Linked DNA regions of Homo sapiens: all the other regions are linked to region 4. The links come from fine-mapping of genetic effects on gene expression. A gene starts in region 4. Each other region holds a variant in brackets. All regions are shown on one strand. Distances are from middle to middle.

Region 1 (7,876 bases), 82 kb after region 4:
TCAAGCAGTCCTTCCATCTCAGCCTCCCAAGTAGCTGGGACTACAGGTGCACACCACTGTGCCCAGCTCTGCACTTTTTAAAATTGAGATTTTTAACTTAGAGTCTGACTTAATAGTAATTCTTAAGGTTAGCAAATTCTTTCTGATACATAAGACCAATAAACATGTATCTGAAATAGCCGTGTGAGAATAGGGCATTCATTCAGTTGACAAAAATTGCCTACTATTTTATTTTGCTTTTTTAAGGCGAAGAATATGCCTTAGATATGTGTGGCAGGGCAAATTAGTGCATCTAGCAGATCTCTTTGGAGCCTTTAGTTTCCCTTTCCTTCAAAGCCCTGTGGTTATTGTTAGTAGAATTTTAGTGATCAGATCTACAGGAACCTGTAGTTCTTTGTATGTTTGTGAAACAATGATTTACTATATCCTGTGTTGCTATTATTTAATAGATCATTCAACACCAGCCAGCCAGTCTCCTCATTCCTCTAACCCAAGCAGCCTACCCAGCTCTCCTCCAACACACAACCATAATTCTGTTCCATTCTCCAATTTTGGACCCATTGGGACTCCAGATAACAGGGATAGAAGGACTGCAGATCGGTGGAAAACTGATAAGCCAGGTGAGATCTACATTTCATTGCCAGGCAAAATTGAAAGAATTTACTCTATCCTTCCCTGGGGTCTGGCAATTGGCAGTGATAGAACATCTTCTTGAATTTTTCTTATCTCTTTTCATCCCTTAGCCATGGGTGGGTTTGGCATTGATTATCTCTCAGCAACGTCATCCTCTGAGAGCAGTTGGCATCAGGCCAGCACTCCGAGTGGCACCTGGACAGGCCATGGCCCTTCCATGGAGGATTCCTCTGCTGTCCTCATGGAAAGCCTAAAGGTGAGTAGATTTCAGGAACAAGAACCACAAGATTATTACAGCAAAGGTGTCTCTGCTTTCATTCACATAAATAGCTAGACTTCTCAGGCCCTCGGAGTTGACTGATACATAGCACATATATAACAAAGTCCTAGAAACATGGTCTGCCTTACAAGATTCTTGAGTGATAATTTTTAATTTCTGAATTCACTAGTGGTAAAGCAGTATCTTCAGGAGGACAAAAACAAAGGTTTTAGTTTCATTCTAAGGTTAAGAAAATTCTGATTCATTTTGGAATGTTTGATTTAAGCCTTTTCTGACAAAATAAGAGTATCTAATTTTAGAAATGTTTTATTTGCCTGAAAACTTTATAGTAAATGCCCTGTGTGGTACCACATACAGCTGAGTTTCAGTAAAAAGACTTGACATAAAATGTGATTTCACTTCTTCTGGTTTAAAATAGTCTTAATGGAAACTAACTAGCTTTAAGAGTCTTATAATGACTTTTTCTAATAGCTGGATTTTTATGGGGAGTGGGGTTGGGTTTTGGGGCCATATATATGCCTTTATATTTGGCTGGGATTGAAAAATCCCTTTCAGACAACTTGGCATTTGACCTCTGCTGACAAGATCTGGACTGTTTTTCAGTCTATCTGGTCCAGTTCCATGATGCATCCTGGACCTTCTGCTCTGGAGCAGCTGTTAATGCAGCAGAAGCAGAAACAGCAACGGGGACAAGGCACCATGAACCCTCCACACTGAGGCCAAAGTGGCAACCTGGGAATGAAGGCTCCATAAACCATGGCATGTTGGGTTTGCAGGACTGGCCCACACAGTCCCCTGCAGGTGGCAGCCCTCTTTTCTGTTTCTCGCTGTCAAGAGGGTGTAAGTATTCCACCAGCCCGCTGAGTGTGCACGAAATGTTCGCAGTGCAACAAAAAGAAAAATCCATCAGGAACTCTCCGTCCCCCCGGGGCCCTCCGGAGGGAGAGAGAGAGGAACTGCTGTTTATCTCACTCAGTTACTTGGTATCACCGCCTCTCACCTTCTCCATCGTGCATGTCCCCAGCCACATGGGAAGTGAAAGCTGAGAAGGGAAGGCAGATGGGAGAAGCCAATGGGAACTTCTCAGTCCTTTTTTCCTCTTTGGGGAATAAAATAGGAATCCATTAATGATTGCTTTGCTGACTGAGAATGTAGTTGAAATTATTCTTAAACATCTTTTATTATTATTACTCTCAGTAGTAAAATATCACACTGAATTCTTCCATACACAGGTGTGCTTCTAGTCAGTGTGTAGCAAGGAAAGCCCCGTTCACTGCTCCTGTGAGAGGTTGGTGGTGACAGGATGGGGAACCGACCTCTTCAGCCAGTGGAAATGTTCCATAAGGGAGAGTTCAAGGCCTGTCAGAAGGCTCTGGTAGGCCTTCCTCTGGCCAGGAGACTCCAGCAGGGAATGCCCTTCACTCTGTAGGTGCTCGAGCCCCAATCGAGGATACAGTGTGGGTGGTGGTGCTGGGCTGGACTAGCAGGTAGACTGCTGTAGGATTTCAAATTACGTTTTTGATTCCTGTACATTTTACAGTCGCACAGCAAGCAGTCTCACAGAAGGCAGGCTAGTCCATTCACAGCCTGACACGTTCTAATAGGTAGAAGCTTTCAGTGTGGTTATTTTTTCTTTGGTTGGTTTTTGTGCCCCCATTCTACTTCCCACCCTCCTGCCCCATCTCCATCCCTTCTTTTACCCAATGCTGTATGCTAGTAATTGTTTTTATTCCTAATGTGTGCAACATCACATCTCCCCAAGAAGCAACAGCATGGGGTCCAGCAGTTGGGGCCCAAAAGACAGTCTGAAGAGGAAGGAAGCAGCAGTATCTGCGTAGCCCACAGAGGGCCCAGGCCCCTGCCCAGCTGCAGTCTCCCAGCCTCCACTTTCAGAGTGAAATTCAAGGCAGCACGGACATGTGCCCATCAGGCACAGAAGAAAACACGACGTCGTCCATTTTGGAAGAGACGAAAGAAAGGAAAATAAACTCTTTGTATGATATTTATTAGGAGGAAAGAGGACTGAAAATGTTCTTGTGTAGAAACAGAAGGACAGCATTTCTGTTAGTCATTTCCTGGAAAAGTAATATTTTAAGGGGAAATTATGGAAACAATCTAATTGTTCAATTGCTGTGCTAGTGGTAGGGTTTATTTTCTGGGAGGTCTCTCCTTTGTGTGTCTGTATGTTTGTGTACACACACGTGCCCATCTGCTGTCCCAGAGGGGAGGGGTTGTGTGTGCGAGTGTATGGAGTTAGTGTGGAACTTAAGAGCTGGAAGACAGCTGTAGAGCAAAGCACATCCAGGAGCCCCAGTTGTCACTGCAGTCTGGGCAACCCCAGCAATGAAAAGGGGTGAGATAACGCTCATTGCTCTTCAGAGAGAGTGGTTGGAGCCCCCCCCGCCCCGTATGCTTACATTATTGCTCTTTTAGTTTGACATGGTGTTTGGGTTTTGTTTTTTTGAAAGGTCTGAAAAGGTGAAGCCCCCTACCCAATGGCAATATGAAACCTTTTGTGCTTCTCTTCAGCCCCTTCCCTGTGTCCACCTTTCTCTCCTCTTCCCAAGCCTTTTTCCTACTACCTTTACCCAGTTTGTGTGTTTGAGCTCTGCATTCAGGCAGCTGCAACATTCCAGTGTTTGAACTGTCACTGATTCTTGCGCCCTAGACAAGCTAACCAGGTTTACCATCTCACTCCCAGTAATACCCAGCTCCTATCTAAAGCCCCATTCTGCATGAGAATTTGGTGTTTGGAATGTTTTCTGACTCTTGGGGCGGGATTCCTCGCCTTATCATCCTCACTGTGGAGTAATGAGGGGGAGGAGAATCTTTATCAGAAACTGGTTTTGTGTAGTAAACTTTCTTTTGTGGTTTTTTGTTTTGTTTTCTGGGTTTTGTTTTTTGTTTTTGTCTGTGCAAGACCTGCAGCTGCTGAAAATCAGCTTTGCCTTTAATTAAACCATGTTCTCTCCAACCAGATCTGTGTATCGATTCTTTCTTTTCTATCCTAAAAGATATAAAAGAAGTATTGAAGAAAATCCAACTTAAAAGGCAAGAATTTCAACTACTCACAGGTCATCCAGGGAAAGGCATAAATGGTCAGAACTTGAATATTTTTCAGGGTTAATTTTGCTTTTAGTAGCATTCCAAACC[A/AATG]ATGAATTACGGAAATTATAATTAATTGTAATGGAAAGGCATGAGTAGTAAGAAATCGATTATCAAAATTCTTTTATTTAATAAAAGAATGCCTTATGTTAAGGAATTAAGAGCCCATCATTTTTATTTTTATTCCTATTGTAGCTGTTACTGAGGCAGTTCAGAGAGTTTATCCTTTTGGCCTGTAAAAATTCACTGAATCTGATTAGCAGCAACATTAATTAATTCTTCTTCTTAGCTTTGGGGTTTCTTTTCTTTGAGTTGTGTCCAAAGTTTCCAGTGATTGGTAGCTTGCTGGGTCTTCCAACTGTGTGCTGGAAGCCAGTGGTATAGCTAACCTTAATGCCTGTGTGCTCACCCTGACCGGCTATCCTTTCACCTGCATGTTGATTCAGTCTGCAGTTCACTTCCTTATTCTGCTTTTCACAGGCGCCTGCACACTTGAAAAATTGTTAGCAAAGCTCCACATACGCTACAACAAGAAGTGGGTAGGGAGAGGAACTAAGGCCAGGCCTTAAGGTCTAATAGTTTAGTTAGTTACAGAATCCTTCACCCAAGTTAATCCTGAAAAATTGGACAATTGGGTTAGCCAAATCCATAGCATTCTGTTATGTATATTAGTATAGCATAGTATATGCAGTCATTTACCATATAACAATGTTTTGGTCAACAATGGACTGCATATACAATGATGCTCCCATAAGATTATAATACATTTTTGCTGACCTTCTCTATGTTTGTTTACACTGATGATACTTACTTACCATTGTGGTATAGTTGCCTGCAGAATTCAACATAGTAACATGCTGTACAGGTTTGTAGCCTAGGAGTAGTAGGCTATACCTGGTAACCTAGCTGTGTAGTAGGCTATACCATCTAGTCTTGTGTAAGTGCACTCTAGATGAGTTTGCACAACACGTTTCTCAGATCATGTCTCCATTGTGAAGCAGTGCATAACTGTATTACGAAGTGTCAGCTAACAAGATACTACTTACGAACTAGCTTCATGAACACCGCTGCTTTTCATCACTTAAATGTTGGCGATTGATATATATTCAGTATTGAGTTCTTAACACATGTTCCTCTCTGAGAATGTACAAAGGTATGTAATTCTATTAATTCTCTGTGGAATTGAGTGTTGTAGTCCATGAGAACCTAACTCAGTCTAGGTTCTGTTTAAGCAACAAGACATAATGAAAAAAGAAAACAAACAAGTTTATTTGTATATGCCTTATGAGTAACCTATAAGGTTACTTCAAGCCTTAAGAGCCAATTACAGTAATGGTTCAGAAACAGGAATATTTGTACTTACTCCTTGGGCCTGGACTTGGGTGTCTTGTTTTTGTAAGATGCTAGGTTTTTTTTTATTGTGGTATGACACAGAAAAGTGCACCAAATGTACAGCTTGATGAATGTTTACAGTGTGAACACAGCTGGCTAGCTAGCACTCAGAGCAAGAAACAGGATCAGTACCTGGAAGACTCTCTCGTGCCCTTTCCAGACACTTCCATCCACTTTTCCTCTCCCCTAACTCCTCCATTCACCTGTCCCCATCTCCTCACCCACTGTGCCCCAGGAAATCATCCTGGGTACTCACATCATTGTCTAGTAGGTTAAATTTTAACAGGGAATAAATAGTTAACACTTCCAAACTGTAATGTCTCAGTACAGTATACAGCAGAAGGGTGCTAAATCTTACAAACAAGTAATAGGGCTTCATTTTCTTCAGCTTTGTAGTTTGTGAAACATCCTAGACTTCTCTCCGAGTGCTTTCCAAATCTGTAGTTGCGCAGTCTTCAACAAAAACTTTGGGGAAAATGCCCACCTTCCCTTTGCACTCCCCTTCCAGCCATTCTTCATTCACTGATAAAAGGAAAAGTACACATGGATTTCTAAAACCACTGTAGGAAGATTACCCTGTCTGGCTATTCCACACAGAATTTGTTATCTGTCACCCTTCCCCACCCCTAATTGTGATCAACAGGGAAAAGACAGTATTGCAAAGTGGTTTGAGAGTGAACACAGGGTTTAACCATCTTATTGATCTGTCTTAAACATGATAATGAGCAAAATGAAGAAGGATAAATTATGTTTTTCAAAAAGTTACCAGATAGAGAAGAAGGGTCAAAGAAATTGAACAACGAATCCTTAAATAGAATTTCTGTCCTTTCCCCACCCCCAACCTTGACAGGGTCTCACTGTCACCCAGGCTGGAGTGCAGTGGCACAATCTGGGCTTACTGCAACCTCTGCCTCCTGGGCTCAAGTAATCCTCCCACCTCAGACTCCCAAGTAACTGCAACTACAGGCTGTGCCACCACGCTTGGTTAATTTTTGTATTTATTAGAGACAGGATCTCGCCATGTTGCTCAGGCTGGTCTCAAACTCCTGGGCTCAAGTGATCCACCCAACTCAGCCTCCCAAAGTGCTGTGGTGATAGGGGTGAGCCACCGTGCCTGGCCCAATTTTTTAAGAGAGGAGAGAATTTTACCTGCGCTTTGTTGGGAATCTTTGTTTTGACTACAGAAAAGGGACATGCCATTGGTTAAATATATTAAAAATGAAAGTTCTTTAGTAAACTTTCTTCTTTTCACTGAACTCCATTAAACAGGTGAGCTGGAGCTAGTGATGGGTTAGTACATGTTTGTTAAATATAAATATTTTAATAGCTCCTACTCAGAGCCTTTAATAGAGTGCAGGCATTGTACTTAAAAAATATATTCAGACTTCATAATAACTTGTAGGTATCCATATTTTACTAAGGAAAAGGAGACCCAGAGAGATGAATAGTTTGTTCAGAGCCATTCTGCCAGTAAAAATCAGACAACTTAGGTATGATCTCCAAAGCCCACCTACCTGACCACACAGCCAGTTCAGAAGTTTGTCTTTGTACATCTAGATCAGACATTAAGGCACTGGTGCCTGGATCCTGCCCCCAGAAATTTTGCTTTAATGTGTGGTGTGACTGGGCAGCAGTTTTTTCAAAAGTTCCCTTAGGTAATTCTAACTGCAAATCACTGTCTTGATTCTTCTTACAGGGTAGGTCGTGGACTGGAAGCATATTAGAAATGAAAAATCCCAGATCCAAACCAGAGTCAGAATCCATTTAGGAAGATTCGCAGGTGATTCACATGCACATTAAAGTTTGAGAAACACTTTGTAGATGAGACCATCTCATAACTTGAATGCAATTGAACTCCCCTCTGTCCTACCCTGACCGCTAAATTCTGTTTTCTGTTGAAGTGCTACAATATGGGTATTTCCTCAACTTAGACTTGTACAGATAGGTCATAGTAAGACGCATACTGGCTTCTCTCCATATCTACCCAAAAGGTTGTTTTAGTGTGTTCTTTCATTGTATTCCTGCTCCCTCTCCCAAACTCCAGACAATTGAGCTGGTTGGTTGATTTAGGCACCTTTAAAGTGGCACTTGGAGGTGTTCAACCCAGTTCTTCCCACTGAGTTACCATTCTCTCTTGTTGGAACACTCTGCTTCTATATTACTACTACTCATATTTTTTTTTTTGAGACAGAATCTCACTCTGTTGCCCAGACTGGGGTGCAAAGGTGCAATCTTGACTCACTGCAAGCTCCATGTCCCTAGTTCAAGTGATTCTCCTGCCTCAGCCTCCCAAGGAGCTGGAACTACAAGTGCACGCCACCACGCCTGGCTAATTTTTTTATTTTTAGTAGAGATGGGGTTTCACCATGTTGGCCAGGCTGGTCTCAAATCCTGACCCCAAGTGATCCACTCACCTTGGCCTCCCAAAGTGCTGGGGTTACCAGCATGAGCCACCACGCCCAGCCTATA
Region 2 (7,876 bases), 180 kb after region 4:
TCTTGATCTCCTGACCTCGTGATCCGCCTACCTCGGCCTCCCAAAGTGCTGGGATTACAGGCGTGAGCCACCGCGCCCGGCCCGAGGTCCTGTTTTATAAAAAAAATTACTTTACTTTTTTAAATAGATTCAGGGTCTTGTTATGTTGCCCAGGCTGGTCTTTAACTCCTGGGCTAAAACGATACTCCCACCTCAGCCTCCCAAAGTGCTAGGATTACAGGCATGAACCACCGTGCTTGGCCAAGATCTTGATTTTATACCCAGAAGTGGAATTGCCTGATGATATATTAATTCTCTTTAATTTTTTGAGGAACGATTTGCACTTAATTTTAACTAAACAATGCAATAAAACAATGTTCTATTGCCTTGGGTCCCAGATTTAGTACATCCCTGAAAGTCAGGGACACCTAAGATAAGATAATCTTGGGATTTATGTTTGGCATGAGGTCCTGGGCGACAGGGGAGTGGGGGAGGGCCAAAGTTCTGGGATCTAGAACCTACTAAAGTTTTCCACCCTAGCCCACCCTGCCTACCTGGCTTCCATAGTTTAGAGGATGCCCATTGGTACTGTGGTTTGAGCAGAATGACAGAAAAGCTACAGGACAGGTCCTAAATAAATATGGATTCTTTCAGACTTTGTAGTGAATCTGCATTGTTATTATTTAGAGAAGCATTAAGGCATAATGATTAAGAACATGGATTCTGGAGCTTGACTTCTTGGGTTTAACGCTCAGCTCAGCCTTTTTTTACTACTTGGGCAGTTACTTAAATTATCTGTGCCACAATTTCCTTATATGTAAAGTAGTTATTATAATAATATCTACCTCATAGGATTATTGGGAGGATTAAATGAATTAATACATGTAAGTGCTTAGAAAAATACTTGACATATAGCTCTCACTCAATGTTAGTAATAATGATAATATTATTTTTTAGAAACAGGGTCTTGCTATGTTGCCCAGGCTGGAGTGTAGTGGTGTGATCATGGCTCGCTGCAGCCTCTACTTCCTGGGCTGAAGCAGTCCTCCTGCCTCAGCCTACCAAAGTACTGAGATTACAGGCAGTAGCCACCACGCCTGGCCGAATAATATTATTTTAAATTAGCATAGGTTATGATGTGGCTTTCCTTTTAAAATTTATTTTATTTTATTTTTTTAATTTTTAAATTTATTTATGTGGCTTTCCTTAAAAACCAATACGAAGAGTAAGATTCCATTCTGTGAGTTAAACTTTTTGGATTGCTTATACTATGAATAAAAAAGATGTAACGGCAGTTTAAAGAAATAGGATTTGCTGTCCGATCAGCAGGATTAGATTATAGCTTGATGAATTCTAATCTATTTAGTATTATATAAATTGGATTGTAGCTTGATGAAACATAGAAAACGGATTTCTAGTCACATAGAAAATCGATGCTATGACAGGAGCTGGTCATAGAGGTTTGTGTTGTCTCTTGTTGCCTAGACCCTCCCAAACATTGTCCAGGAATGAGATGCCTTTGTGCATACCCCATCCACCACTTCATTCTAAGCAGATGTCAGTCACCACTACTAAAGCAGAATCTGATAGCACTAAACATTTGAGTCACATAATGGACTCCTCTAATCCATAAGGCAACCTTATGATAATTTGGCTTGCTATGTAGCTTATCTACATGGAGAGGCTATGTAACCTGGATGACTTGAATATATGCTTGCATATCCAGTTATAAGTCTTACTAGAAATCAGTACATTAGTTTTTTGTCTTTACATGTCAATCTCAAGAGGTTTGTTAATCCAAACCTGCTTCTGATGAGTAAATCCATTCTCCCTGTACTTACTAAGTAGGTAGTTGAGCATATAAAGCTAAGACCCCCAAACCCTGGACCTTGGTAGATTCACCAAGATAATGTGTCCGTCTCTTCAGTCTCATTGTTTTCTTGGGATATATCCCAGTGCCTTTTCCAGATCATCATATTACTAGCTACCTTAATTTACTTCTATTTTCTTTATTTCCATTAGTTCTATATGTGTGGTGGCAGAGATATTCTTCCATATCACCATTGCCAGTTGGCTGAAGAGGGGTGGAGCAACCCAATTTCTCTCTCTCAATCCCCGGCCAGCCTGATATGACCAAGAATCACTGCGTAGTGAGCAAGGAAAGCTAATCACTGCACTGCAGGATCTCACTTTGTGGAACTATTGCTTTGCTATATGCCTTCTTATAGCAGACGGAGCTGAAAGGAACCTTAAAGATGAACTAGCCCACATTTCTTGTTTTACAGATGAGGAAACAGATTACTTGCCTTGGACAGTATATCTTTATGCTCTTCTAACAGTCTTTTGTCTAAGGTTGGCCTGGACTTACGACCTGTGAGTAATCTTCTTTGTAGCCCTAGTCTTATCGAACCAGTACAAAAGTTTAACTGCCAAAGGCACTTTCTTTCCTATAGTTCTGACAACTTCTCCTTTTGTTATATACCACTGATATCCAGGTTCAGTTCATCATCTATTTCAGACCATGTTTCTAATTGGATTCTCTGTAGCCTGGTTCATGTTGTAGTCTGCCATTTTCTGGCAACAAATTGGATCTATTTTAATAATGATCAGAGATGCTGGATTTGTCATGTTGGGATCTTTTTAACTCAGTATCCCAAATTGTGGACATAGGATTTCATGAAATAAAAATAAACCTCAACAGTACTTCTTTAAATAATACTCACTATATACCCAGAATAAAACTATATTCCAGTAATTCCATTAAAATTTGTATGCTAACAATAAAACTTTGTTTTAAAATTTTTATTCATGTTTATTTTAACCACAATACTAATTGCTATTCCTAAAATATGTTTTTCTTTCTCCTCCTCCCTTATGGAGTATTAAATGTTTTAATGTCATGGCAAACTCTTTTATTAGCTTAGGATTACTTTATATATATATATAAAGAAAAAAATTAATAGCAAGTTACGAGAAAATGTACATTTTTCTTGTAATGTATCTTTACATATTTCAAAGAGGCAAGTGGCAGCAAATGTGAAATAAGCATAAGCAAAGTGCTTTCATTTAAGTGCTTAGAGGATTAATCAAGGAGCACTTCCTAGAAGTGTGTTTTGAAGATTTTAAGAGAAGGTACAAATATTCACTGGTGACGAGGATGGAGTCAGAAAGAGGGAAGTAAAACACACATTATGCATTGGGAGCTGCATTAGAAAGGGGAATGGATGCTAACAAAAAGAAAAAACATCTCTTGCAGGATG[G/A]TGAAGCAGGCTTTCAGCTGGGATGGAGAAGGGATGCTGAGTTACAATCATTGGTGAAGTTATTGAGATGTCATTTCAGCCTTGCTACTCACATTTTGCTGGGTAATGTGCTAGATCCTAAGGGAAAAGCTAAAGAGAAGGGAGAGACAGTGCTTGACCTGTAGGTACTTATGATCTTGCTGATGAGACAAGGCAACAGGAAGTTAAAGGAGGATCCTTGAAAGCCAGTAAGAGGAACTTGGATTTTATACAGTATGTGATGACAGGAGCCATTGGAGGTTCTCATGTATCATCTTACCTCTATCATCTGCTCAGAAGGGAGAGGTCTGAGCTGGGGAAGATCAAACTGAGCAGGTGGCTAGGTTTTAATCTTTATAGCTATATGTAATCAGCAGAAGAGCTTTTTCCCACACAAAACTATTTTGAATCACTTTAGAAAAAAATGAGCTGCCTAAAATCTTCTGTCCATGATTAACAATTAATAGAAAATCACTGGTTTGCTCCTGCAAACAGCACTTAATGTCAGTAGCTTCAGGCTGTTTTTCAATTTTACAGTAAATTTTTTACCGAAACAAATTTAGGTAGCTATTTTGTCCATGGGCTTTTGTAGTGGAAAGATGATGTGAGTAAAATAGAATAATGAGATTCCTTTTCTGCATCAAAATATTAGCAAGCTGCTAATGGTTCCATTTTGATACTGCCACTTTCAAAATAAAGGAGAGAGATCAAGTTGCTTATGGAAACATTTTGGATTATGTTTAAAATAGTGTAACTTTATAATAGTTGATATGGTAAATAATTCAAGGTTTGCTTTTAGTGCATCAGTTTATCTCCATCTTGGCTCAGCCCTGAGAGAGAAAGTTTCCAGATTTTTATTGCCTATCTAATAAGTCCCTTGGTAATTGGTTTCATGCTGTAGGAATGTAGATTTTATTTCTTCCCTTTCTTCTTCTTCTTTTCATCTGCCTCCTTGCTACTTGCAAACTGTTCTGTGATTTCCACTATCTCCACTGACCTTCCAGTGGGAAGCCTTCCAAGGTCCTTGGTTTCCTGGAATGACATTTGAGGCATATTTAAGTGCCTTACGATATTCCTGGGTTTATTTGGGTTTTGGCCCATATGCATTGGTGGTAAGTCCCTGAGAGGCACTAGCACAAAAACAACAGGAGCCCTGAGGTCTGGAGGTAGGTTGGGTTGGAGTTGTCCACTCGGCATTTGAAAAAACTGTCCAGGAAAGGCATTGTTTAAGGGGTAGCTCTCTAAAGCCTCCTGAGCTTTTGTGTTTGGATTCCTTTTTGTCTGGAGAAGAACATCAGTGAAGTAAGGTTTTACGCCTGTTATGGCATTGATTTCATATGCGTTGTGCCTGTCAGCCAGTGCTCTCCCAGTTAAAATGGGCTGAAAAACATGTGATCCTGAGACACCACTTATAAAGCTGTGGAGAACAGAATGCCAGATCCCACCACTTATTGGACTCAAAACAACCCGCGGCCATAAGCTGGCCAGGCTCCGGAGAGCTTCGCGGTTCCATGCTGAGGCAGGAAAGTCCATCTCAGTATGATAGAGCTGAGAAAAATAAATACTAAGAGTGATGCCTGGATACGTAATCAGGAAATTATACATTTTGCTGATGCAGCAGTGGTTAGCTTCATTACAAGGGGAGTTGTTGGAATACAGAATGATATGCCTGATGCTGTCATTATTGTATATGGCTGAGTCAAGATAACCATTCATTTCAAAGAGCATTGATTCTGGATGGATATAATTCCCAGTGCAACTGCTAGCATGGCCCTTTTGCACCAGGCTACCAGAAGAAGTTTTTAGTTCATAAAATGTGAGGTGTTTTGTTTGAGGAAATGTTGTCCCATAAGGGAATCCAAAAATCTGACAAAATTCTGTGAGGGAAACTCTTGCTTCTTCACCTGTTCGAATATGGTAAGGACAATTAGAGCAATCGAGAGAGAAGCTTAGCCAGTAATATGGTTTTACTATTGTTCCATGATTTGCTAGGTACTCCTCATATATGGGCTCCATTGCTAGATTTACTGTCTTCTAGCTGCAAACCTAAACAAGGAAGAGAAATTACATATAAAACCAGCGCAGGAAAAACTGAAGACAGTGCATTAATTTATTAAACCATACTTTCTTTAAAGGAAGTAGCACAATAAAGATAGTGATATATGCATAGATTTAAAAGCTCAGGATTCATTATTCTTTATTGAGACTCCTAGAGCATGGGGAGGAAACAGAAGAGAAAGGCGTTCTTCAACTTTACCTGTTTCATAGATTCCAAGTCAGTAAAGCAAATGAGTTAACAATGCAAGTTCTAGAAACAGACTGTCTGGTTTTAAATTTGGGCTTGGCCAATTATCAGCTTGGTGGCCTTTGACAAGTTATTTAACATTTGGGAGCCACAGATTCCTTGTCTGTAAAATGAAGATATTAATAGTACTTACCTGATAAGATTGTCTTGAGCATTGAATAACAGAATGAATATAAAATGCTTCACTAATGTGCTTGTCACATAGTAAGGACTCAGTAAATATTAACTCTTAGTAGTAAAAGTACAAATCCTAGGGTTATCTAGATTATTCCTAATTATAAAAGTACAAAAAAGTGTTTTGCATTTTGTTCATGATCTTTCTTCTCAGAATATGTTAACATCTAATGTATTGTGCAGAACTATTCAGTGTGCTTGCATTTAACATCAACTTTCTTAAAATCACTGGAAATAATTTGGAGGTTTTTGGGTTTTTTTTGAGACTAGGATCATGGGATCTCTTTTGCTTAATGATAGAGACTTCTTAGGAAAGTGCCACTTGAGTATTCTTTGGATTGTGGACACTCATTCATTGACATGTAAGAGTTTTCTTTCCCGTGAGTGGGTCTTGTTAGAAGACTTTTGAAAAATTACTGTTACAGAAAGCAAATATGGTTCTTTAGAATATTTCAAATTAGTAGTTTCTGGGATGTTAAACTCAAAAAGCTGAGATCTTTAAGTAATGATTTTTTCCTTTAAAAAATATTCCTTCAGTTATCGTTGTTCCTATAATGCTCTAGGAGCTACCTATTTTGTTTGTTTTTGAGACAGTCTTGCTCTGTTGCTCAGATTGCAGTGCAGTGAGATGATCATGGCTCACTGTGGCCCCAACCTTCCGGGCTCAAGTGATCCTCCTGCCTCAGCCTCCCAAATAGCTGAGACCACAGGTATGTACCACCATGCCCAGATAATTTTTTTATTTTTTAGGAGGGATACAGTCTCCCTATGTTGCCCACACTGATCTCGAACTCCTGGGCTCAAGTGATCCTCCTACCTTGGCCTCCCAAAGTGCTGGGATTACAGGTGTGAACCACCATGTCCAGCCTTCCGTCACTATTAACATGTCTATTCCCTCCAGTCTTTTTGCTATATGTGTATGTTACATATAATATAAACAAAGTCATGTTTTATACCCTGCTTTTTCACTTAATATTGTGCCATGAGCATTTTCCCATGTTATTAAAAATAATATTCGGCCAGGCGTGGTGGCTCACGCCTATAATCCCAGCACTTTGGGAGGCCAGGGTGGGCGGATCATGAGGTCAGGAGATGGAGACAATCCTGGCTAACATGGTGAAACCCCGTCTCTACTAAAAATGTAAAAAATTAGCCAGGTGTGGTGGCATGCGCCTGTAGTCCCAGTTACTCGGGAGGCTGAGGCAGGAGAATAGCGTGAACCCAGGAGGCAGAGCTTGCAGTGAGCCAACATCCCACCACTGCACTCCAGCCTGGGTGACAGAGCGAGACTCTGTCTCAAAACGAAAAACAAAAAACACAATATTCATGGCTAATTAGTTTTTTATTATGTAACTGTAACATTCAGTTTCTTGCCTCTTTTAATTATTATAACACTTTGATAAATATTTCTGTGAGAAATTATCTATTGCATATATTATATAATATTTATTATAAAGAATCAGATTTTTTTTTTTTTTTAGAATAGATTACTAGAAATCATAGTATTAGGTCAAACATTGTCAAATCGCTTCCTAGGAAGGTGTACCAATCTTATCACATTCTCTTACAATGTTGTTTATCCCAATTTGAGAAGGGAGCATTGGTATTTTTTTGTTGCTATAATGTGTGCCTTTATTATTTCTAGTGAAGTTGAACACTTTTTGACATGCTTATTGGTCTGTGGTATTTATTCTTCTGTGAAATATATTTGATTTTTTACCTATTTTTTGCGTGAAGTTTTCCTTATTGGTTTGCAAGACATTTTTATGCATCAAGAATATTAAATCTGCCACATTTGCTGCTAATATTTTACCTGGTTTATACAGCCTTTTAATTATGCCAATGTTATTTTAATTGCACCAAATTTTACATTTTTATGTGGTCCAGTCTCTACTCCTGTGATTTTTTTTCTTATTGTATTTAGAAATGCCTTCCTCATCAAAGCATAATTAAGTATTCCCCATATTTTCTTCTAGTATTTATGGTTTCATTTTTTACATTTAACTTTGTCAGATAACAAAACTGATAAGGCAGAAAATTTAAATGAGGTAAACTGACCATTGCAACAGAATATATTTTTCACTTTTCAAAATCTCACTTATCATATCACAAGTATGAATACTTGTGCTAATAAATAAAT
Region 3 (7,876 bases), 91 kb after region 4:
AGACACAGGATAGTTCTGAATAGCTGGTTTTTAAGGCAAAATTTACCTACTTTTCTCTTTGAAAAGTACATTAATTCAAAGAACTATGGTTTGCAGAAGGTCATACAGCTTGATGCAAAGGCAAAGTGATTCCAGCCCAATTTGTTACCTCTGGGAATGAGAATCCATGGTTTCCAAAGCATACTCCTCTTTAATAATCAAGATGTTTATCGCCGGCCAGGTGCGGTGGCTCATGCCTGTAATCTCAGTACTTTAGGAGGCCGAGGCAGTTGGATCACTTGAGGCCAGGAGTTTGAGACCAGCCTGGTCAACATGGCAAAACCCCATCTCTACTAAATACACAAAAATTAGCTAGGCATGGTGGTGGGCGCCTGTAATCCTAGCTACTCAGGAGGCTGAGGCAGGAGAATTGCTTGAACCCAGGAGGGGGAGGTTGCAGTGAGCCGAGATTGTGCCACTGCACTCCAGCCTGGGCAACAGAGGGGGACTCTGTCTCAAAAACAAAAACAAAAACAAAACAACTCAGCTTCTTGTTGCTTTCCTGGCTACTAGAGCAATAGACAGGGAAAGTCTGAGTGCTCAACTTTGCTCCCTCCAGCTAGATGCTAGGAAGGGGGTTGAAAACACTGGCTAAAGTTTTGTTTGTAGATTATTGATATTTTCTTCTCTCTGCCCTTGACCTTGTTTCTGCTAACATGTAAATTTGTTTCTATAGTCTTGGAGTAGCACTTACCCTTTGATAACACCAGGATTATATCCCCTTCCTGAAACTCCAGGTCCTCTGGTTGGGTAGCCTCATAACTGAAGAGTGCCTCCACTTGGCTGCCTTTCTTAAGCTGAGGTTCTGTTGTCTGGTTATTAGCATCAGCTTTTTCACTTTCCTTGGGTTCATCTGGAAAGCCTTGGTCACCCTGAAATAATAAAGGGCCTGTTAATTTTCCCAATTTCCTGCCAAGTGAACACTGAACATCACTAAAGGAAACAGCGAAATGTCAAAGTAGAACCTGGGATATAAACTCATAAAGTTTGTGATCAGTGCCTTGTGTAGAGCTTATATGCTCTTTATGAATACTGGATGGTTGGGTAAATCAGTCCCCAACCTTTTTGGCACGAGGGACCAGTTTCATGGAAGACAGTTTTTAGATGAATGGTGGTGGGTGGTGGGTTGGGGGGTGGTTTCAGGATAAAATTGTTCCACCTCAGATCGTCAGGCATTAGATTCTCATAAAGAGCATGCGACCTAGATCCCTTGCATGCACAGTTCACAATAGGGTTCACACTCCTATGAGAATCTAATGCTGCTGCTGATCTGACAGGAGGCAGAGCTCAGGCCAGTATACCTGCAGCTCACCTGCTGTGCAGCCCTGTGCTGGCCCGTGGCCTGGAGGTTGGGGACCCCTGGGATAAATGAAACCAAAAGGTCTGCAAAATCATATACAGTCTTAAAATATCTTACTGAAACCTTACAATAATCTTGAGACAGGTAGAATGGGCATTATTATTTCTTTACAGATGGGGACAGAGCCCTAAGTCAAAACTGGCTTTCTTAGCATCAACTCTAACAGCAACACTAGGGACCTTGTTAGAAATGCAGACTTTCAACTCCATCCCAAAACTACTAAATCAGAAACTCCCTGAAGGTGAATCCTGCAATCTGTATTTTAAGTCCTCTAGGGAATTCTGATACTTGCTAAAGTTCAAAAACCACTGCACAATGCCATACTTGTTTTATCTGTAACAACATTTCTTATACATCTTAGACTTATGATCTTAGACTTCTTCCACATTATTGTCACTTTTGCTTCACAAATGAAGGAGAAGGATGCGGTTTCTACAGATGTGAATCATAGAATTTAACAAATCAACATTAGAAATGCTGCTAGGCTTGTATGTACCGAGCATTATAAGTTCTAGCTTCTTAATGTTGTTTGTTGAACGTTGGTATATTTTTATTGAGAGGCAATACAATGAGGTGGAAATGGCCCTAGAGAGTCCACAGAGAAAGGTTTGTATCCCACCTCCACTGCTTACCAGCTCTGTGTCCCTAAGCAAGCAGTGTAACTTCTCAGAACCTCAGTTACCTCACCTGAAATTGAGGCTAGAAGAATTCAATGAGATGACATACAATAATAGTAGTTGACATTTATTGAACACTTACTCTGTGGCAGTACTCTTCTAAATATGTATAAATATTTAGACTTGGTTAATGGTAAGTGTTCCTGCATAGAGTAGATGCTTAATAAATGTTAGTTCATTTTATTTTTCTTTCTTTTCTTTTCTTTTTTTTTTGTATTTTTAGTACAGATGGGGTTTCACCATGTTGGCCAGGCTGGTCTTAAACTCCTGACCTCAGGTGATCTGGCCCATCTCGGCCTCCCAAAGTGCTAGGATTTCAGGCATAAACCATACCAGGCCTCTTTTTTTTTTTTTTTTTTTTTTTTTTTTTTTTTTTTTTGAGGCAGAATCTCTCTGTCACCCAGACTGGAGTGCAGTGGTATGATATCAGCTCACTGTAACCTCCGCCTCCTGGGTTCAAGCAATTCTGCCTCAGCCTCCCAAGTAGCTGGGACTACAGGTGCACACCACCACACCCAGCTAATTTTTGTATTTTCAGTAGAGATGGGGTTTCACCATGTTGCCTCAGCCTCCCAAAGTGTTGGAATTACAGGCATGAGCCACTGCGCCTGGTTTTCTTTCTCCTAGTAAGTGAAAGCCTGCTTTGTTGCCTCCAAAAGTAATGGATAGTGATAAAGAACATTCAACAGTGACTCCTGAGCCTGGATTAAATTGCAAAAGATTGTGGGGAGTTGTAAGAGGGTTGGCTATGTGCAGCCACCAAATAGATTGAAGCTGCTGTCAAAGGAAAAAATTTTAATTAAAAAAAAGTTTAAGTGAAGTAGTTCACATTTAGAGCAGAACTCCTTCTAGGAAGAATCTTTTAAAAAAGATGCTGAAGGGGTTAGTCCAAAGACAGACAGCTGGAAAACCTAGAGTGACTTTTCAGACTTCCAAGAGACCCCTTACACTCACACTCACTCTTACCCCCAGGATCCTGGGGCCTTTTGTCTCAGCCAGAGACACCAGGGAGTCTCATCCCCAGTGGCTGTATTTCCTGAAGGCAATTTTCTGAACGGGGAAGATACCTTAAACAGCTTTATACACTGCCCTTTTCTAGGCTCATTCTCTTTCACTCTTCTTCTCCCAGCTCATGTCTGTAATCCCAGCACTTTGGGAGGCCGAGGCAGGTGGATCACAAGGTCAGGAGTTCAAAACCAGCCTGGCCAAGATGGTGAAACCCCGTCTCTACTAAAAATACAAAAATTAGCTGGGTGCAGTGGCAGGTGCCTGTAATCCCAGCTACTCAGGAGGCTGAGGCAGGAGAATTTCTTGAACCTGGGCGGCAGAGGTTTCAGTGAGCCAAGATCACACCCAGCTTGGGCGACAGAGTGAGACTCCATCTCAAAAAAAAAAAAAAAAGGTGAAGAATGGCTATGAGCTGAGCCTTAAGCTATGATATGACTTCATTCCAACCTTGCTTGACAGTAATGGATGGGATGTTTGACACAGTCAGGCAGGGAGCTGATGGAGGGGCAGGAGGCTTTCTGTGAGCTCCTGCCCTGCTGGGCCTGCTGTTCTCTTGTGGGAAACTCTCTCCCTGCTGCAAATGGGGTGAGGATGCAGGTAAAAGGGAGGCAGAGCTGTGACTTATTACACACCATATCCCCAACACCACATATAGTGCCTAGTACACAGAAGGTGCTTGATAAATTTCAAATTGTTGAGGAAGTGGCTCAGTGGAAATGTAACTTTAGATGCCCCTCATTGCACTCACCACTGTGTTCTCACACCACAGAGTCAGGCAGTAGTTTTTCACCTGGCCCCAGGCATCCTTCATGCTGTCTTCTGAAAGGGGCACCAGCTCATTGCTGTCCCGAGGCC[G/A]ATAGCTGGGTGGGGATAATGAGTAAGAATCCAGTCAAAGAACATCATCACAAAAACCATCCTCCTCTTCCCTCCTCCAGGCCAGCACAAGGTTCCCACTGTACCCCTCACAGCTGCCTGCATGGAGCTCACCTCAGCTTAGTGTGTTCCAGCCGGAGCTCCAGTTTCTTAGACACCATGTCCCGGACCTGGCTGTAGGGGAGCCCGGGCTGAGTCTTCATGACTACCGTGTACTTGTAGTGCACCTTGAGTGTGTAGGGCATGGGAACACTGAGCTTCACTTCCTGAGTGGGGAGGAAACAAAGGGAACTCCTGAGTGTCTGAGGCTTTCTCTCAACATCCTGGATCACCGCAGTTTCGTGATTTGGCACAGGGGGTACCCAATACAGCAGGGGAGAGGCCAGTAAGTAACTGGTTTCACAGTAGCCTAAAAGGCCTTCAGAGGTCCTTTAGCCCAACCCTTGCTTGGACAGGAATTCCTACTGAGTAAGATCTGGCCCACTAGCTTGGGTAGTAGGAAGTGTGTGCATGATAGTGGAGGAGGCTATTAAGAAGGTCCCTAGCTCATGGACTCTGTAAGGTAGCAACTGGTTCGACCCTCCCTTTGGGGCTCTTCCTATAATCCAGACAGACATGTCTGTGGTTGATAGCCCAAGCTATCCCATCTTCTACCACTTGAAACAGTATGAGGGAAAAATGTTACCTTAGGCTCTTCTTTTTGTTTCTGGCCTGAATGGAAAAAGTAGGGAGTAAAACAAAAGAAGATGGTGAATGAACATCCTTGGCCAGCCCCTGCCACACACAGATGAAACCTCTTCAAATAGGGCCCCCAACCTCTTACCCTTTAATTTGTGGGGCAATTATTAACCTTAGTAAACTGTGGGGAAAATCTCGCCCTGGGGAAGCATGAAGGTCATGAACACATGAACAAACTCAGTCTCTGCTTCTAGGGAGCCTATAGGTAATTACCAAAGGACCAGCATATCCTCACCAACCCACAAGGTTAGCAGGGATCCCAAAGGTCAATTAAGCCCACGGGATCCAAAGCAATGAAAATCGGAGTGCAAGGTGAGCCAGAGGCCACAGGAAGAAGTATTAGAACCACTGATCCTCACCTTATTCTTTATTTTTGTGTATGTTTCCTAAAGTTTATTAATTTAATCTAATCTATTAATCAAGCAATCTAATATTAATCTAATTTATGTAAGAGTAGCATGCATAAAGATATTTACTATAGGGGGTACATGATCAGAGAAGGCCACTGATCTCAAACCTAGCTGATCATTAGAATCACATGGGAAGTTTTTTTCTAAAATACAAATTCCCGAGCCCCATTCCAGTCCTAAAATATCAGAGCCAGTAGCCTAGGACTCTGTATTCACAAAATCATCCTAGGTTTATATGTGATCCTTGATGAGCCTCTAGACAAAAGATAACAACAAAAAACCTGTCAAGGACATTGAGCAGGAGCAACGGGAGAAATTTGAATATGGAATATACATTATATAATACTATCATATGAATGTTTAGTGTCCTAGATACCATGATTCTATTGTGATTATGCAGGAGACTGCGTTTTTGCAGCTGTGTAGGGTGAAGTGTCACGAGTCTGTAACTTTTCAACTGGCTCGGGGGAGAAAAATAGAATGGAGCAGGGCGAGTTCATGGTGCAAAATGTTAACAATTGGTGAGTTTAAGTGAAAGATATTCTGATGTTTATTGTATTCTACTGTCAGCTTTTCTGTAGGTTGGACATTTTTCAAAATAAAAATGGGGGAAGGGACATCCCGAGTGATTCTGATGATCAGGCGCGTGTGGCAATCATTGATCTAGAATCTGGCCAACCACTCACTCTGCGTCTCTACCAAGCGCTTATCCAGAATCTGCTTCAAGTGCACTTCCCAAGACAGCCCTCTCCACACTAGGAAACAGCCTTTCAGAGAGAACATTTCCATTTCACATCTGCCCATTGGTTCTTTGTTCATCCTCAGGGCTCCACAGAGCAATTTCTTTTCCAGATACAGTGCCTCAGACATTTGAAAACAGCCACTCCATGCCCCTCAGAGATAAGCAGGTATAGTTACTTCAACTTTTCTTCCTGAGACATCGTTTCCCTACCTAATGATCAAGGGGTTTGGTGACTACGTGAGTCACTCAGGAACCAGCTGCATTCACCCAAGCCCCGTGAGTGTTCTGCAGAAGGCAGGGAGAGAGGGCACTGATTTCATGTTTGGGGTGGGTGGTGCAGGAAAGGGGGATTCTGGGGCTGCGTGGTCATTAGCTGAGTGACATGTTGGGAGAAGAAGAAACCAGAATTTCCTGGAAGGCAGGGAGAGGAACTCAGGAAGCAGCCTGGCATGCTGCTGCACCCAGACCTAGGCTGTGGCTCCAGGACCACTCACCTGGTGACAGCTGGGGTCTTCCAGGGGCTTTGGAACTAGGAGGAGCTGGGATGTCGGACTGCGGAGAGCTTTCCTCCTGAAGGCAACAGGGAGCGACGGTCAGAACCTTCATTCAAAGTTCCCAGGCAGGGGTGGATGTGGGGAAACACCCCTACAGAGACCCCATGTAAAGGAGCCACATGCAGATAACGTCCTAAAAGTTGGAATGGTAGTGACATTTGGGGAAGACGAAGGAAATGTTGGCCAAAAGAGGAGGTGGAGTTGGCCTGATGAAAATGAAAATCACAGTAGAAAGAAGAATCCTAACCCGCTAAAACGCCCTTGCCGCTTTAGCAACTCTTTCAGCCATATTGGAAATCCACTGGCCGTGGGGCAGGACTGAGCTCTTGTCTCCACTGCAGAGGGCATTGAGAAAGGAAAAATTCCACTTCTCATTTGCAAGGCATTTGAAGCTTTTCAAAGCATTTGGATATGGTGACTGACCAGGGAGGGCTGAGCTCATATACAACTGGTTGCACAGTCTAGAGACAGACAGTCTCCACTGCCATTGAGTCACTTACAGGGATGCTCAGATCTGACAAAGACAGCTCTCTAGGCCTGGCAGAAGGACAGACTTTTGAAGTGTGAGGGAGGGAGTAGCAGCAGTTTAGAAGCAGTGGCTGGCAAGGCCCACTCTGATTCAAAGCTCTAAGGCAGATCTCATTTTATTATTTTTATTTGTATAGAGGTGGCATCTCTCTATTTTGCCCAGGCTGGTCTCGAACTCCTGAGTTCAAGTGATCCTCTCACCTCAGCCTTCCAAAGTGCTAGGATTACAGCCATGAGCAACTGCAGCTGGCCTCATTTTCTTTCTAATGGCATTGTACCAGCCAACACATTGACTACTCTTCCACGTGAAGCAGACACACTTGGGAAGACCTAACCCACTCATATACTGTAGGCTTTGCTTCCCAAGTGACTTCTGACCAGGAAGAGTCACAGAGGTGGGTGGGCCCAATGGGACCTACAGATGCCTCCAACTTAGCACATCTGGGCTTTTTTCCCCTCATTCCCAGGTTCAGCTCTGGGTAGCTGGTGCCATCTCAAGGCGGGCTCAAGACTAGTGAATCTTTCTCCAGGGGTCCTGACAACACCTCTTTTACACTGCTTTTCTCCCCTCCAGGGAGAGATCCCTAAAGGGTGAGAGGAAATGGGTCAGGCCTTGGCATCACATTACCTGGGGCTGCTGCTGAGGGTGGATCCGCAGCTCAACTGGTTCAAGGTAGTTGCAGGGAACAAGCCCCTTCTGCAGTGCAGCACCACAGAATCAGAAAGGAAAAAATAAAGATGTGCTCATCAGTACCCACACCACAGAACAGCCCAGAGTCCTGGGGAAGGGATGACGAACAGACAAAAGAACTTGGCTGGTCTGCAAAGAAGGCAGCAGATACTGCTCCACAGAGACTGCATTTGCTGCCAGGATCCCATGCCCATCGCACCAGCCCCTGATCCTCTGCATACCTGCCCGTTGAACATGACCGTGGCCCAGTTATCAT
Region 4 (7,876 bases):
GGACTCACAATGTCCTAATATTGTGTTCTTTTCTGTAATCAGTCATGAATAAAGAAATCTATCTTCTAGCACTGGATGCCAATAGATTTGAATGTGAGTTCAGACCTATGAGTATTATAGACAAAGACTAGATTGAGAGCTGGGTACAGTGATTCACACCTAAAATCCCAGCTACTTGTGAGGCTGAGGCGGGAGGACTGCTTGTGGCTAGGAGTTAGAGATAGATAGCCTGGGCAATACAGTTAGGCTGCATCTCTATTTAAAAAAAAAAAAGACTAGATAGAGTATTATTTTAAAAAATAATGTTATGCTGTAGTAGTTCTATTTTACTCTTTTTAGCTTGATATAAAAGAGCAAAAGGGACTGGGCAAGGTGGCTCACACCTGTAATCCCAGAACTTTGAGATGCCAAGGCAGGTGGATCACTTGAGGTCAGGAGTTTGAGACCAGCCTGGCCAACATGGTGAACCTTGTCTCTACTGAAAATACAAAAATTAGCTGGGCGTGGTGGCACACACCTGTAGTCCCAGCTACTTGGGAGGCTGAAGCACAAGAATTGCCTGAACCCAGGAGGCAGAGGTTGCAGTGAGCTGAAATTGTGCCACTGCACTCCAGCCTGGGTGACAGAGTAAGTCTCTGTCTCAAAAAAAAAAAAAAAAAAAGCAAAAAGGCAGAAAAAAATTTAATGTTTATCAAGTTCAGTGTTGTATAATGGGCACTCAATCATGTATGTCATCATTAAAGGTCACAGGAAGCCTATAACAGGTAATGCTTCCATTTTGGTCAAGGAGCAAACTGAAGTTCAGACACCAAGATGGCAGAGTTAGAATGCATACTCAGGTCCGTTAGCTTGTGATCTTTCCATGAAATCACTTAGCCAAAAAGACAAACCCAAAAACAAAATCTGGTAGGATTAATGTAAGTAAGGAAGCTTCTCTTTAATTTCTTTTGGTTTAGATGTGATCTTATATCTGTAGGGGGGAAAAGGTGAACAATATCTATTGCAAAAAGAAAGATGTTTGTAATTCTACAAGTTTGTTGACTAGGACAAGTGGAAATAGATGAAAATGGAAAATGTGTATTAAACAGTATATAAATAGAAGGTAATAATTTTTCTGAGTCCTATTGATTTTTGAAGGTAATTTTAATATTAGTATCAAAGTCTTCTAATCTCTAAAATATACTACTATTCTTCTATTTAGCTAGAGATATTGTAAAGCTATTGAAGACTCTTATAAGATTCTTAGGAAAGCTGCTATAAAACACAGACTTTATTATTTCTGACCTCATGTGTTCCTACTTTGTTCTTACCCCAATTACTGCATCCCTCATATTGCATCCTAATCATTACTCTGAGCTCTCTACCAGCAGTTGGGTTTCCTCAAGGCAGGGACCAGGTCTCTTTCACTGTGGTGTCCATCATAACCAGAACAGTGTCTGAAATATAATAAGTACTCAGTAAATGTTTATGGAATAAATCAGCAAACACTAACAAAAGGATTCATCTTTCTGATCCGTTTCTCTATTTCCAAAATGAGAAGATAGTAGTAATATTTTCCTAGATTGCTTATCAGGAATGTATGATAACTGTTCATACACTCTTTATTGGAGATATGTGCCACAGACATAAATGGCTATTACCATGATTAGTAAGGGGGTAATTATTACAATTTTTATTCTGGTTGAAATCTAACCAATTAAAAAATCTAACCAATACACGATCACACTGGTCTTTAAATTAAAAAAAAAAAAGAAAAATATCTAACCAATAAATTTTCGGAAAGAAATGTAGGCTATTTGAGGTAATAGGTAGTAGGAGTGTCTATCCTTGGGCGCTCATGGTAGAAAGAAAAGCAGAACCCCACCGCGGAAATGAGAATAATCCCTCACTAGGTGGCTCTCTTTGCCGTGAGTGGGCGGCGCGTCGGGGCGGGGCGGGTGATTGGGGGCATTGTACTGCCGCAAGCGCTGCGTGTCACGCCGCACCATACCAGGCGCTGGCAGCATGAGGGGCATAGTCCACTTTCTATTTCGTTAATGACAATCTGTCCTTGGAATTTATTTCAAAGCAGGTTGTACTTTCGTTTCCGCTAAACTTATACCTGATGTTTCAACTGAACATTGGTATAGTCTTATTGGTGCAGGTCTCAGAGAAGGATCTTGAAAGTGCCTCTTCACCTGGCGTAGAAAAAGACAGCAGGAATCAGGTAGCCAAACCAGACCAAACCAAATCAAAATAGCCCATTAAAATCCTTATTTTAACTATCCTATGAGGGCTGCATTCTTGGAAGGTTTTATATAGTTACATATCCTAAAGTACTTTGGGATAGCTCCTTAAGTGACTCCACAATACGAACCGAAAATATAACTTGTAAAACGTCAATTTCTTCAAGTCATGGATGATGAATTTTCCAGCTATTTCTCATACACTTCATATTATTATTGACTTCGTTCTTTATTTCAGCTTTTTGGCCCGAAACCTGACACAAAACACACATAATAAATATCCAAAAAGATTTGTTCTAAGAATGAAACTTCTTTTCCTAGACTCCTTTCACCAGACAGATGTATCTAGGGTTCGTTCTTCTTGATCCTCTTTTATCCGATGTTTTCCTCTCTAACTCAACGACACAGAATGACGACTTTTAAAACACTGCAGACCCGTGAGAAGAGAAAGGTTGCAGAGCAGGGAGGAACTTGGAGGTCTGCCTTTAATAATCAAGCAGGATCCCCACTGCGGGGTGCCTATCAGAGTGATGGCGCTAGTCAGCCTTCCGGCTTGTCCCCGGCTTAAATGATAGAAAACCACGTGTTAGCCTTCTAGGATGTGTTCCCACCCTCACCCTGGCCTCCTCGCGGCAGGCTCGCGACAGCTAGGTCAGGAGGGAGTACGCGGGTGGGGTGGATTTGGGGGAGGGGTCGACTCGCCAGAAGTCGGCTATCCCCGTCGGCAGGGAAGGCATCGCGGCTGTCGTGTGCCGCTCTCCTCCCTCAGGGACCCCGTCCAGGCGGGATCCCGCCTCCCAGAGCCCAAGGCAGTTGTGGGGAAACCCCTTGCCCTTCCTCGCCGCTTGGCGCTGTCGCCTCGCCCTCCCGACTCCAGCCCGCCGCCCGCCAGCCTCCAGGCCATGCATCCTCTTCGCAGGCCCAGCCCTCTCCACGCCCGGCTCTGAGAGGAAACTACGGAGGTGGTTCCCGCTCGCAGGCGGGTGGAAAAGCCCATGGTGAATGCCTCGGGGTGTCCCCCCAGTTGCTGTGGGAAGTGGGAAGGGAGGAGGAAGTGGACTTCACCACCGGGGAGAACTATATCGATTCCTAACTTGGGGGAGGCCTTTAGATGGAAGGGAAGCCAACGGGGAACCCTGGGTGGTTTCCTGGGAATCCATTGGCCAAGGGGAGGGTGACCCTGTCCGCACACATCGGTTACTATGACAATATAACCACAGCCTCCAGTTGCCATGGCAGCTGCCTATCCAATCCGATTGTCTTCTCTTCCTCTCCGGGCCCCACCTTATCCCCTCCAAGAGTCTCCCAGCGTGCATGGGGAGGGGCTGCAGCGAAGAGGAGAGGGGGTCCTTCGAGTCACTCTCTACGCGCGAGGGAAGACAGGCGTTGAGGGACTGCTGGGAGGAACTGTAGGAGGAAGGGGCGGCGTTTCCGGTGGGGAAGAGTGGAGGCGTGCAAAAAGGAAGAGGGAAATCGGCAGGAGTGATAAGAAGGGGGAAGACTTTGAGTGTAACTCCCGTTCTTTTGGCCTGGGTGTTCCCGGTGGTGGGATTGGGATTGCCCCCTTGCGCGGGAGGAGAAGGGTGGATTGGCAGGAAGCCGCCAAGCGCCACCAGCCGGTCTCTCAGAAGCCGCACAGGCGCCACACAGCTCGTTGATCCCAAAAGGGAGCGCTACAGAGAGGCGGAAATCACTGAGGGACAGGCGCTGCTGAAATCTCGCGAGAGGGACCCCCTCCCTCGCCCGGTCGCCGACTTCCTCTGCTTCTCCTCTTTCCCCCGCCCCTCCTCCCTCCCCCTCCCCCCCGGGTCGGAGTGTCCCTGCGCCCCACGGGCCAGAGCAGCAGCGAGAGCAGCTTTCCCCACTCCCTCCCCCTCGCCTCATTCACCCCCACCCCCCTGCCGAGCGAGGAGGAGCCGGAGGAGAGGAAGATGGCGGCGGCCGCCAGCACCCGCGGTGCCGCGGGGCCGCTCCGAGGAGCCTGAGAGACCCACGGAGGCTTCGCGGGAAGACGCGGCGGCGGCGGCGGAGGATGAGCCTGCAGAGCGCGCAGTACCTCCGGTGAGTGCCGAGGCCGGGCTGGTACGTAGGGGGAGCGGGCCGCAGGTTGGGGCATGGAGCAACAGACACCGAGGTAAGTCCGGGGTGGCGGGGGAGTTGCTGCGTCCTCTCCTCGCCGGGCAGGTCGGCGGAGACTGCAAGGGGATCTGCGGGAGGGGGCGGAACGGGTATGGGTGCCTAGCCCCTACCGCCCGGGCTGAGCTCTGGCGAAGCCGGCTCGTCCCGGTGCGAGGAGGGAGGTTGGGGAAGCGTGAGAATGTGCGCGCGCGCCCTTGGTCTCGGGTTTGCTAGCGAGGGGTGGAGAGAAACGTCCGGGGAGGCGGCGGCGACCCCGAGTGGAGGTGGGTGTGGAGGAGTCTGATCCCCGTGGCAGGGGACTCGTGGTGTGGCGTGGGATTGGTTGGAGCGATGCATGAGTAGAGGACGGGGAGGAAGTCTGCACACCTGGGGTGTTGGGGCGGGGGAACCGCGGAGGGCAGACAGGGGGAGAGGGAGACCGCAGGAAACTGGAGCTTGTTCTTCATTCTCGGGTTGGGAGTATTGAGGAATAATGTCATCTGTAGTTAGTTGGCGGTGTGGGGAGGCGTGAAGGGGAATAGATGGGGAAGTGAGGAAAGAGGGAGGCACTGTGGACAAGGTTGGGTTTTTCAGAAGAAACTGGGTTAGAATCAGTGTAGTCGGAAGATACCATTCTGAGAGTCGTGTGTATTCATTAAGAGTGGTGTAAGGAACTTGTATGTCAGAGGTAGAGTGACACATGGGAATAGTGTGTGTGTGTGCGAGATGTGTGTCTGGGGTGGGGGGCGCGGCGATTGATGCACATTTCAGGATGAAGATGTAGATAGGTTGAACTTAGTACCTGATGGCGAGAACATATTGAATGGAAGGACACCAGCTTTTGTGTCAGCTGAAAGGTTCCATGGAAGCTGAGTAAGAGCTTGGAGGCAGAGGTAAAGTGGGTCAAAAATCTTGATAGAGAAAAGTAAGGTTGTTAGATCCTGAAATTAACTGGGGAGTGACTACTGCTTAGAAAAGGGGAAGACTTTAAAATTGGTCCTTTTTGTCTTTCAGGAGCAGAACTAAGAAAGGGAGGCCTTATGGAAAGATGTTTTTTAAAAAATTGTTTCATACCTTGCGGAGGAGGGAGTTGGATGAGGTGGAAGTCTGAAATGAGTGGAAAAGTCACTTTAGCTGTTTAGTGACATGAAAGTATTGACGTGTGTGGATCCCTATATGTATATTGCAAGAGGTGTGTAGTTACCTGATACATAGGGTGGCCATTATAATTTTTAAAGTAGTAAAGTTTTATTAAGCATAATAGGGAGAGAAGAGAATGATGAGATATTTGAACAATGCTTGAATGCTTGATTTTAACACAACATATATGCCCAGTGACCACAGGACAGTTGGAATGATGTCTGTAATTTGAGGTCCTTTTTTTCATCTTAGATATCCCTTTGTTGTTTAATATTTCAAATAAATATAGCTATGACAAAGATCTGTTGTAGGTGCTATAGAGAGATGGAAACCATCAGGGTGCTGATTAGTCTTAAGGAATTTGCAGTTGAGTATCTGTTAGGCAAGTAAATTAAACAGCACAGAGTGTAAGTACCATGAAAGATACCAAACGTTGCCGGGCACGGGGGCTCACGCCTGTAATCCCAGCACTTTGGGAGGCCTAGGCGGGAGGATCACCTGAGGTCAGGAGTTCAAGACCAGCCTGGCCAGCATGGTGAAACCACGTCTCTACTAAAAATACAAAAAATTAGCTGGGCATGGTGGTGGGCGCCTGTAATGCCGGCTACTCGGGAGGCTGAGGCAGGAGAATCGCTTGAACCCGGGAGGCAGAGGTTGCAGTGAGCCGAGATGGCGTCATTGCACTCCAGCCTGGGCAACAAGAGTGAAACTTCGTCTCAATAAATAAGTAAATACATAAATAAAAATAAAAGATACGAAGTGTTTTGAGTCCAAAGGCAGGAGATCACCTGAGCAATGGGAGGAAATCAGGAAAGACTTTGTTTATTTGCTCATTCATGTACTCATGATTCATTAGTTGTTTTGTTGATCACCTGTATGGGAGGCATTGTACCAACATCTGAGAATAGAAAAAGAACAACTCCACCCTCCTTTTACAGAGCTTACACTTTGTTAGACTTCAAGAAAATGGCACTTAGGATATTGTTCATCCTTAATGTTCATTTTGACAGATGTGGATTGAGAAGCGGGGAATTCCAAATGGAAGGAAACTGAGCAGAGTTATGTAGGTAGGGAAGCTGGGGGGAAGGGAGGTATTCAGTCCAGTTAGACAACAAGGTAGTGTGATATAGCTGAGAAAACTTAAGAGTTGTAGAGATTATCAAGTTTGACCCTTTCCTTTTACACATGAGGAATGTAAGCCCAAAGAAGGTAAAATTGTTGAGGCTCATATAGCTGGTATGTGGAAACTAACTGAAATGTAGGTCTTCTAACTTCAAGTCAGCTGTAGTACACTGCATGTCAGTATTCATCTGTTCTTTCCACAAATATAAGTTGAGAACATAATATATTCTAGTGTTGAGGGTACACTGGTGAATAAAAGGGTGAACATGGGAGGATATATTATAGTAGAAGGGCACAGTCAGTAAACATAGCAGTTAAATATATATCAGGTGGTCACAAGCACTAGGAAGAGGAATAAAGTAAGACAGGGATGTACTGTTTTATCTGGACAAAGTGGTCGGGGAAATCCTATTTGATAAGGTGACCATATTTAAGAGGATCCTGAATATCATGTTCCATAATTTATAGTTAAAATGGGTAGACAATGGAGAATCTGAGATGATTTGCTAGAATTAATATGTTCACAGCTATGTGTTAGGAAAATGACTCTGTGTAATGTAGTGGTGGATAACAGAGAAAAGTAAGGTTGTTAGAGCCTGACATTAATTGGGGAGTGACTACTGCTTAGAAAAGGGGAAGACTTCAAAATTGGTCCTTTTTGTAAGGTTCTTTTCCTTACAAAAGATTCCCTTTGGGACTTTGGTCCTGAATAAGGTACTGGCAGTGGATCTAGAAAGTTATGAAAAACAAATTGGCAGAGTGGTGGTACTTTTAATGGGGAAGATCAGTGGACTTTGAGAGGCTTCTTGTTAATGTGCCTTATATTTTATAGCTTGACATGGTAGGGAAGACTTCCTTAGATGTGGAATCAATGATAGTTTGAGATGAACTTAGTTCTTTGAAGAAGGGAGAAAAAAAATGAATACAATGATATTTTTCAGCTAAAATTGAGCAGGCAAAATGGGGGAGGCATAGGTCCTGGGGTCCCTTAAAGATTCCTGGAGCCAGTCTTGTCTCAATCTTAGGCATTTGTCCTAAGTAAATTAAAACAAGTGTTAGAAGTCTGAGACCTAGGTGGTGGTTGTGGGAATCATAAAGGCTTGTGCCAGTCTGAATTTCCCTCCTCCTCTTTTAGATAATCATTCCATTTAAAGTCTGCAGTGGGGACACTAGAGAATGTCTTTAGGGAAGCATTATGTTCACGTTCTTTGAAAATAGAACTGTTGGTTTTTATAGACACTTCAGGGAGGATGCCGAGTATTGCTGAATGG

Evidence for each region.
Region 1: its variant is fine-mapped to the expression of SMG7 in whole blood (TOPMed, PIP above 0.99). The same link has a PIP of 0.9 or more in B cells, CD4 T cells, CD8 T cells, NK cells, lung and monocytes.
Region 2: its variant is fine-mapped to the expression of SMG7 in whole blood (TOPMed, PIP above 0.99).
Region 3: its variant is fine-mapped to the expression of SMG7 in whole blood (TOPMed, PIP 0.97).

What each region holds. Positions count from the first base shown.
Region 1 is chr1:183,550,302-183,558,177 of GRCh38, forward strand. It overlaps SMG7 (SMG7 nonsense mediated mRNA decay factor), which reads left to right. Exons shown (of 23, transcript NM_001375584.1): 21 at 450-620; 22 at 744-889; 23 at 1,517-3,890. The coding sequence ends at 1,630. NCF2 (neutrophil cytosolic factor 2) reads right to left here. Exons shown (of 15, transcript NM_000433.4): 15 at 5,261-5,929. The coding sequence ends at 5,817. Among named protein-coding and RNA genes, the nearest start is that of NCF2, 36 kb to the right of the region's middle. The variant A/AATG (reference allele first, on the strand shown) is at 4,067.
Region 2 is chr1:183,643,509-183,651,384 of GRCh38, forward strand. APOBEC4 (apolipoprotein B mRNA editing enzyme catalytic polypeptide like 4) reads right to left here. Exons shown (of 2, transcript NM_203454.3): 2 at 2,767-5,303. The coding sequence starts at 5,273. The coding sequence ends at 4,170. It also overlaps a transcript of RGL1 not described here. Among named protein-coding and RNA genes, the nearest start is that of APOBEC4, 5.9 kb to the right of the region's middle. RefSeq lists a silencer at 2,246-2,540. The variant G/A (reference allele first, on the strand shown) is at 3,240.
Region 3 is chr1:183,559,363-183,567,238 of GRCh38, forward strand. NCF2 (neutrophil cytosolic factor 2) reads right to left here. Exons shown (of 15, transcript NM_000433.4): 8 at 7,842-7,876; 9 at 7,558-7,626; 10 at 6,342-6,417; 11 at 4,643-4,668; 12 at 4,072-4,223; 13 at 3,833-3,944; 14 at 734-911. Among named protein-coding and RNA genes, the nearest start is that of NCF2, 27 kb to the right of the region's middle. The variant G/A (reference allele first, on the strand shown) is at 3,940.
Region 4 is chr1:183,468,364-183,476,239 of GRCh38, forward strand. SMG7 (SMG7 nonsense mediated mRNA decay factor) reads left to right here and starts at 4,136. Exons shown (of 23, transcript NM_001375584.1): 1 at 4,136-4,286. The coding sequence starts at 4,258. SMG7-AS1 (SMG7 antisense RNA 1) reads right to left here and starts at 3,619. Exons shown (of 5, transcript NR_040063.1): 1 at 2,357-3,619; 2 at 2,102-2,177; 3 at 1,311-1,436. RefSeq lists silencers at 1,812-2,001, 3,974-4,123 and an enhancer at 3,187-3,818.